3 separate regions of the Homo sapiens genome follow, and all the other regions are linked to region 2. The links come from fine-mapping of genetic effects on gene expression. A gene starts in region 2. Each other region holds a variant in brackets. All regions are shown on one strand. Distances are between the middles of the regions. Region 1 overlaps PDIA5 (protein disulfide isomerase family A member 5). Region 2 holds the start of PDIA5 (protein disulfide isomerase family A member 5). Region 3 has its middle 19 kb from the start of MIR7110.

What was found. PIP is the estimated chance that this variant, and not a neighbour inherited with it, causes the effect. A credible set is the group of variants that fine-mapping cannot tell apart.
Region 1: its variant is the best candidate, but not a certain one, in a credible set for the expression of PDIA5 in whole blood (INTERVAL, PIP 0.54).
Region 3: its variant is the best candidate, but not a certain one, in a credible set for the expression of PDIA5 in monocytes (TOPMed, PIP 0.66).

The regions. Positions count from the first base shown.
Region 1 is chr3:123,130,594-123,133,276 of GRCh38, forward strand. It overlaps PDIA5 (protein disulfide isomerase family A member 5), which reads left to right. Exons shown (of 17, transcript NM_006810.4): 11 at 1-23. Among named protein-coding and RNA genes, the nearest start is that of MIR7110, 30 kb to the right of the region's middle. The variant T/C (reference allele first, on the strand shown) is at 1,498.
Region 2 is chr3:123,065,766-123,068,448 of GRCh38, forward strand. It overlaps PDIA5 (protein disulfide isomerase family A member 5), which reads left to right and starts at 1,260. Exons shown (of 17, transcript NM_006810.4): 1 at 1,260-1,441. The coding sequence starts at 1,400. RefSeq lists a silencer at 1,315-1,554.
Region 3 is chr3:123,179,287-123,181,969 of GRCh38, forward strand. No RefSeq gene overlaps it. Among named protein-coding and RNA genes, the nearest start is that of MIR7110, 19 kb to the left of the region's middle. The variant G/A (reference allele first, on the strand shown) is at 1,147.

The DNA.
Region 1 (2,683 bases), 65 kb after region 2:
CCTCGTCATGTTCCACGCCCCATGTGAGTGGAACTTTGCTCCTCCCCCTCCACACCCTCCCCTCTCTCAGAGTAGGATGAGTGTGGCGCTTTGCAATGTGAACCCAGGAAGCACTTATTTTTTGGATGCCAGGACCCATGCTAAGCCAGGGGATGCAGTGGTGACAGGCGAGGTCCCCACCCTCGTAGTGCACATGGCCTACCCCCCATTGCCATGGAAACAACACAGAAGTCCTGATCAGGCTTTACTTGTCCCTTAGCTAGAGCTCAGTGAGTCTCCACCACCCCTAGCTCTGAGCATCTTCCTCCCAGTCAGCATGAATTGGAGAAATTAAGCTGGAAGCACCCTGAGATGTTACCTAGAACAGACTGGGCCTGGAAATAAAATTAGGGCTGATACCTCATATGGGGGCTCATACCTATAATCCCAGCACTTTGGGAGGTCAAGGCAGGAGGATTGTTTAAGGCCAGGAGTTCAAGACCAGCCTGGGCCACATAGCAAGACCCCATCTCTACAAACAATTAAAAATTAGCTGGGCATGTGGTGCACACTTGTAGTCCCAGCTACTCAGGAGGCTGAGGTGGGAGGATTGCTTGAGCCTGGGAGGTTGAGGCTGCAGTGAACTGTGATTGTGCCACTGCACTCCAGCCTGAGTAACCAAACAAGACCCTGTCTCATTAGCCGGGCGTGGTGGCGTGCACCTATAATCCCAGTTACTTGGGAGGCTGAGGCAGGAGAATCGCTTGAACCTGGGAGGTAGAGGTTATAGTAAGCCAAGATTGTGCCACTGCACTCCCTCCTGGGCAGCAGAGCGAGGCTCCATCTCAAAAAAAAAGACCCTGTCTCTAAAAACAATTTTTTAATTTAAAAAAAAAAGATATTATCTAGGGCAGTAGTCACCTCTTACCTTACAAGTGGTCGCGGGCTGAGGCCCCAGGAGAGCCTGTGCTTGCCCAGGAGCTGAGAGGGCATGGGGAGGCCAGGCTGGAGCTGCAGATCATCCAGCATCTAGAATGCCTTCTGTCTGCTTCACCTCATTGCATTCTCATTCTGAAATGACCACAGTGAATCAAGGAAGTAAAATCCTGTAAATGCTATCAAACGTGCTTGCGATAAGGGCTGGAAGGCCTGTGGCCCAGGAGTTTTCTGGAGCAGTGTCTTCCTACTCCCATGGAGAGTGGAAAATTGACCATAGGTGGTTTCCAAGAGGGACAAGGCTGCCCCTGGGAAGGCAGACAAGGCCGCGTGAGAGCCAGGGGATGGCAGGTGTGGGCACAGAGTGTTGTGAGTAAGAGATTGTGGAGGAAAAGCAAGAGGTCAGTGCCTCATGGAGCAGGGCTGAAATCGTGAGGTCACAGTGCATGAGGATGGTTAGTCCATAGAGGCATATTCTATCAGGAGGAAATGTTATTACTCCTCTTAATCATAGGGTCCTCATGCCAACAGTTGTGTGTCACCCTACAGTGGTAACACATTGTCTTCCTGAAGGGTCATCTT[T/C]TGTTTTACCCAGCGTGCCACAAAGTGAGTACAATTAGCCCCATTTTACAGATGAGACCGTCACACAGAGAAATGACATAGACCACCCACGGCTCCGTGAGTCCTGAGCTGCTTCAGGCCTCAAGAGCCTTAGGTTCCAGGAAGAACAGGGTCAGAGCCTGAGCCCCAGTCTCCTGGCCGCCTCCCCTTCCCCCACAGTATCCATGAGTTTGGCTAGCCTGGGAATTGCTCATAAACATACTCTTACCATGGATTTTCCTAACTCATTATTTCTTACAAGTGCTAAATTCTTAGGAGACTCTAAAGGAATAGCTCTAAAGGACTCTAAAGGAATAGCTCTAAAGGAATAGTTTCCTATAGCTCTTCTGAGTTCCTAGAAAAGAGACCAAAACAAGCCCCCAAAACTAAGTTTCAAAAACCCTCTAGTCTTGTGGGCCTCTCCTGATGAAGCGCAATGAAGGGCGTCTGCCTCAGGTCTGCTAGGGCCTTGGTGAGGGCATCCCCGAGGGTAAAGGTACTCAAAAAAGTGCCCGCCATGAGGCCAGCCAGGTAGCACTGCAGTGCTCTTCCTAGCTATAAAATACACTCCCTGGCCAGCCTCAGAGCTGCTGCTGGAAGCGAGTCTTGCAGGAATTGATGTTGAATCTAGAGCCGAAATCACCATCCTTGCACCCCTGTCCCAGCCGTGACAGCAGATACTGGCTGGCTGTTTCCAGTTCCTCCTTGGGAACCTCCAGGGTCTTCATCCCCATGTGTCTGTCCTTCCAGTTAGGGTTGGGAGAGGTCACCAGTCCCCTGGGCATTCATGGTTGTGCGCATGTGGGTTTATTTCTGCTGGGCTGGCAGAGTGAGAGGGATCAGGGCAAAAGCATGTGGTTAGCTTCCTGATATACTGCCCGTCAATGTTCCTGTCGGATGGTAATAGCTCTGGATTAATTCCCTTTCTACACACTTCTTCATTAAGAGCATGGTCTTTAGCCTAGGGAGGGATGGAATGTACATGCTTTAGGGAGTTTGGAGCTCAGGACAGGTGAACTGAGAGCAGAGAGCTCATAGCTGCCTGGCTTTGTATCTCATGCCAGAGTGCTTCTGAGAATCCCCAGTGATCAAGAAACCACTTTTGCAGTGTTTGAGGGACCTGGAGTAAAGGACAAATGTCAAGAGGCCAGAGACCAGCAGTGTCATC
Region 2 (2,683 bases):
AACCATCATCTCCATCTAGTTCCAAAATGTTTTATCACTCCCAAAGGAGTCCCTATACTCATTAAGCAGTCATTCCCCATTCCTTCCTCCCCACCCCCACTACTATGCTTTCTGTCTCTGTGGATTTACCTATTCTAAATATTTCATAAGATGTAATCACATCATATGTGACTTTTTGTGTCTGGCTTCTTTCATTAGCATACATTTCTGAGATTCATTCATTGTAGAATGTATTAGCATTTTATTCTCTCCCCCCCACCTTTTTTTTTTTTTTTTTTTTTGAGACAGGGTCTCACCCTGTGGCCTAGGCTGGGGTGCAGTGGCATGATCTTGGCTCACTGCAGTCTCCATATCCCAGGTTCAAGCAATCCTCCCGCCTTAGCCTCCCAAGTAGTTGGAACTACAGTCCCTTGCCACCACACCAGCTATTTTATTTTATTTTATTTTTATTTTTAGCAGAGATGAGGTCTTGCTATGTTGCCCAGGCTGGTTTCAAACTCCTAGTCTTACACGATTCTGCTGCCTCAGCTTTCCAAAGTGTTGGGATTACAGTCATGAGCTGCCCTGCTGGGCCACTTTATTCCTTTTAATGGCTAAATAACATTCCATTAGATGGATGTATCACACTTTGTTTACCCATTCATCCTTTGACAGACGTTAGAGTTGTTTCTACCTTTTGGTTATTGTAAATAGTGTTGCTGTGAACACTGGTGTACGTGCATTTGTCTGAATACCTGTTTTCAATTCTTTTGGGTATTAGCCTAAGGGTGGAATTGCTGGTCATATAGTAATCTATGTTTAACTTTTTGAGGAACCACCAGATTGTTTTCCAACAGCTCAATAATGTTTTACTGAAGTTAAATAGAATAAGCAGGAGGGAGTCTGGGAGGCAGGGATGAGGGCTTTTCCTGTCCTTCACAGGCAGCCCTGGACTCTGCCATTTACCGGCTGTGTGATCTGGATCAACGTACTTAAATTCCCTGCGCTGCCTCCTAATCCTCAAAGTGGAGAAAATAAAACCTAATTTCTGTGAGCTGCGTGAGATACTGTTTCTGAAGCTCCAGGCACAGAGTAAGCCCCCGCTCATTAATTGCCTTCCCTTACTCCCTGACCTTGCCTTTTCGCACTTCACTCGCTGCCACGTGGCCTCGGAGCCCAGTCCGCACCCGCAGCCCCCAGCTGAGCCAGGCTGCAGACTACAACTCCCAGCGAGCACTTCTTCCCGGCCGCCTCTCCCCAGCTGCTGCGCATGCTTTGGCAGACGTGGCACCGGGAACTCGGAGGCGGGGAGCGGCTGGGAAGTGGCCGTGGTGGTTGGCCGCGGTGGAGCTAGCAGGCGGGCGGGCGGGAGCGGGCGCCGGAGTGGAGAAAGGAGCCAGCGGTGGGCAGCGCTGCTGGGATGGCGCGGGCCGGGCCGGCGTGGCTGCTGCTGGCAATCTGGGTGAGACTGTGGGGCAGGGATCCGGGCCGGGCCAGCACGTGTGTCCCGCGTGCCCTTCTGCGCTCTCTGCTCCAGCCCTCTGCGGAACGTGCGGGGAGCTGCCCCGGGGCACCGGGATGAGGGCGTGCATGCCAGGCAGGCGGGCACTGGGTGCTACGCGGGAGACAGCGGGCGTCCCGGTGCCCTCGCCGCCAAGCGCTCCCGGACGCAGGGGCAGGAGGCAGCTGTGGGGCGCCGGGAGATCCCTGGCAGGGTGCTTACGCCACGGCCACAACTTTGCGGGGATGCAGGTCGGGGCACAGCCGGTCGGGCAGGACGCCGGCGGGCTGCGGGGTGAGCTCCGCTCCAGACTCCGAGCCCTGCACCTGTGTGAGTGCGGGGTGGGATGGGGGTGCTTACTACCTGCACTGCCGGAAACCTTGGTTTAGGGCCACCTTGTTCTTGGCTTCGGCCCCAGGCGTCTGGGAAACTGCGGGCCACCACCTGGGCCTCCGCCCACAGGCCAGGCTCGGTGGGCTGGGTGGGGTCGACGTAGCCCGCCCCGGCGGAGGAGCTGCTCCTACACCCAACTGAGGCGGGCTCGAGCCTCAGCCACTTTCTAGCTGTGTGACGCGGCGGTTCATTTAATGTATCTGAGCTAGTTTCCTCATGCATGATATAGAAAGGCAAAGCTACCCCCATAGGGTGGTTCTGAGAGTCGGATGAGGTCTCAGTGGAGGAAGCTGTGTAAACTGCAAAATCTTACAAAAGTGGAAAAGGAGTGGACTCCAAGAGTAGTTTGCTACACTTGGTGGGGGGGACTCCAGGCATCCCTGAGAGAGGTCGGAATGGGTGTGCCTGCCGGCCCAGGTCTGGGGTTTGGCCTTCGTTTCGCTGTGGGTGTGTGATGAGATATTGTGGCCTCCTTCCCCATCTTTTCCATAACTTATGCGCTCCCTTATTTTAGGACCATCCTGGTCCTTTTCCCCTGAAGTTCCAGGGAACTTCCTGTTCCTGGCACCCTCCCCCCAACCCAGATTTTCCCGTTCTTTTCCATTTGGGTGTGGCAAGGACACTGGGCAAATGGGAGGAGAAAAGTGTGGGTTGAGTTGCTTGAAACACTTCCATCTCCCAATACCCTGGCCTTTTGGATCACCAGTGAGGAGTGGCCTGGTACTCTCTGGTTGGAAGTGGGTGGGGAAAGAAGCCCCCTGTTCTCTTCGGTCTGTGTTCTCCCTCTTGGGGAGAACCAGGCTGGAGTGG
Region 3 (2,683 bases), 110 kb after region 2:
TTATGAACCACCACTCTCAGCCCACATCACGGTTGCAAGGCACTCTCTCTGCAGGTTGGTAGGTTGTCGTAAGTGAGGAGGTGGGAGAAGATGCCTCCCCAGTTCATACGGCTTTTGCAGAAAGTGTTGAAAGAAGCATTCTTTTGGCTTTCCGGGCATTTTGAATTCCTAATTCTGATTATTTTTTTTTTTCTCTATGCTTAGGGGAGGCCAGAGGGAGGCCTTTCTCTGAGCTCTGCGGAGGCCAGTAGGTAGAACATTTCTTTCCATTTTGCTGCTATGTATATTTGTTTCTTTCACTTTCTTTCTTCTTTTTAAAATTCACACCAAAATAAATGATTGAATTTAGACTTTTTTCCAACTTAATAAAATTACCTTGGGTTCAAAAACTATATTTGAGAGGTATAAAGTAATGGACCTCAATGGAATATGAGGTTTATCACTATCAGGTCTGTCTTATTAGAAGCCTCATATATTCTACCATTTTACAGAGCTCTACATAATTAAGGAAAAATTAGGCTGAGTTTTTGCTCTTTTTAAACTTAGATTTGCTGTCTATAAACACATGGTCACATATTCTAGAGAAATTCCTTCATATGTACAAAAGAGGATGTGTTTGAGAATGTTCGAATCAACGTCGTTGGTCATCACAAAAATAAATTTTAATCATGCAATTAAAAACAGGTGGCAGTGGAGTTGGAATGAATTAGAGCCATAGTTATTAACAAGAAAAAAATCACTGAAAATTAAAAAGTTGAAAGATATTGGGAGTATGATCTCATTTATACAAAGCTTAAAATCTACAAAACAATACTATTGTTTTGGATGCCTCTATGAGTAGTAAAAGCTAAAAGAGTTGCATGGGAATAATAAACACAAAATTGAGAATAGCGGTGATTTGGGCAGTGAAAGAATGGAGGGGAATGGAGTCAGGGAAGTGCCTTCAACCGTATTTGTAAGATTTTAATCTGAGGGCTGGGCATAGTGATGTTCTTTATATTATTTTAATGGCTTTTCATGTATTATTTCATACTTCATAAATTATTTTTTAAAGAAAAAATGTGGAGGCATGCAGTTTGTTCTACTATTCTCTCTACTTTTCTGAATTTTAACATTTTTCAAATTAATAAAATACTATATTTTAAC[G/A]TAAACTCTACATGCATAACTTCCCCTTTTTGTCACCTATGTTTTAGTACTCAAATGAATTGAAGGGAAGATAGAGTGAGGTAGTGATATTATTTCAGAAGTAGTGAACCAAGGCCTCCTCTGCTGGAACTGGAACTTGAAATAAATTAGGTTTAGTTCAGTCTGGAGTATTAATTGGATTTAATTATTTATGAGCTAAGTGTCATAAGGGTCCATGATCCTTAAAAGAATTAATCACATTTCAAAGGGCATTGAAAACCATATAAACGCAATAAAGTTGCATAGTCTATTCATCAGCACATTACCTTAAAGTCCTGTGGAAGAAGCAGTCTATTTAACATTCTAAAAATTAGTCCAGACTTTTGTATCAGACTTTGTGCAATGTCATTTACTACCCATGGGAAAGAAATGATTACACACATACCATAACACAACACATATTTCATAAAGATACAGGCGTATTTAACAACATATATATGAGATACATGGGTGGATGACTACCTGGAAGGTGGAGGAGATTGGCTAAAAATAAAATAAAATGCCTTCTGGCAGGTCTGGCCGGATTCCCACTGGATTAGCCCGCTTCTAGAGGCCGTGTGTCACCAGCATTGGTGACCAGCACTACAGTTGCATCCATCTTTCTAACAAAGACAATCCACAGACAAGCCCCATCACTTAAGCTCGTGGCCAGGACTGTCCAGGATGTGGCCCTCAGTTCTGGTTCTTCTGTAAAATCTACAACCTTCATAGTGGTTGGCCACAGAAAAAGAGAACGTTTTCCTGATGGAATGTATTAGGAGAACACCACTCTAGGGAGAACAATTTACTTTTTTTTATCAATCCTGAAATAAATCAGTGACAAAATTCAGTCAGACTCTGGCTGTTTATATTTCTAGGAACCTAAGGAATTGCCAGGTGACTCCATGTGAAGCTACCCAGGTACCAGGATCTGAACGTGTTAACACTGGACACTCAAAGTGGACAGAAGGGCAGACAGGCCTGGAAAGATTGCTCCATGTCCAGCAAATTCCCTGTGGCCTCATGGTGTTGCTTGTAGGTCTGGATAGACCCTCCGTGGTTTCTGCCCATCATTTTTGCCTGGCTCTCACGTCCATGGACCACCTCTCCAGAGAGCTGCTCTCATCATCCTTCCAACCTGGGGACACGATTAGCACTGCCAGGACAGGTAGCCCCTCTCTTGGCTTTTTTTTTTTTTTTTAATTTACAGATTCCCTTTTGTCCCCATGTGCATCTCCCTCACCAGTGTGTGAGATGTGTCTGTAAGTAAGGATACGAATGTCCTTAAGAATATGTGATGTCATTGTGTGTACTGATGCATTTCAAGTAATGCGAATGGCATTGGGCTTAAAAATGATATAAAGAAAGAGAGGGGTTTTAATGGACTGGTCATGATAATTTGCTATGAATTCAGGAACTCTTGAAATGATTATGATGAACTCTCTGCACTAAGGTTAAAAAACAAAAAAACCAGATCCCTTGACCTTAAGGTCAAGGTTCTCTTCTTCATAGAGAAAAG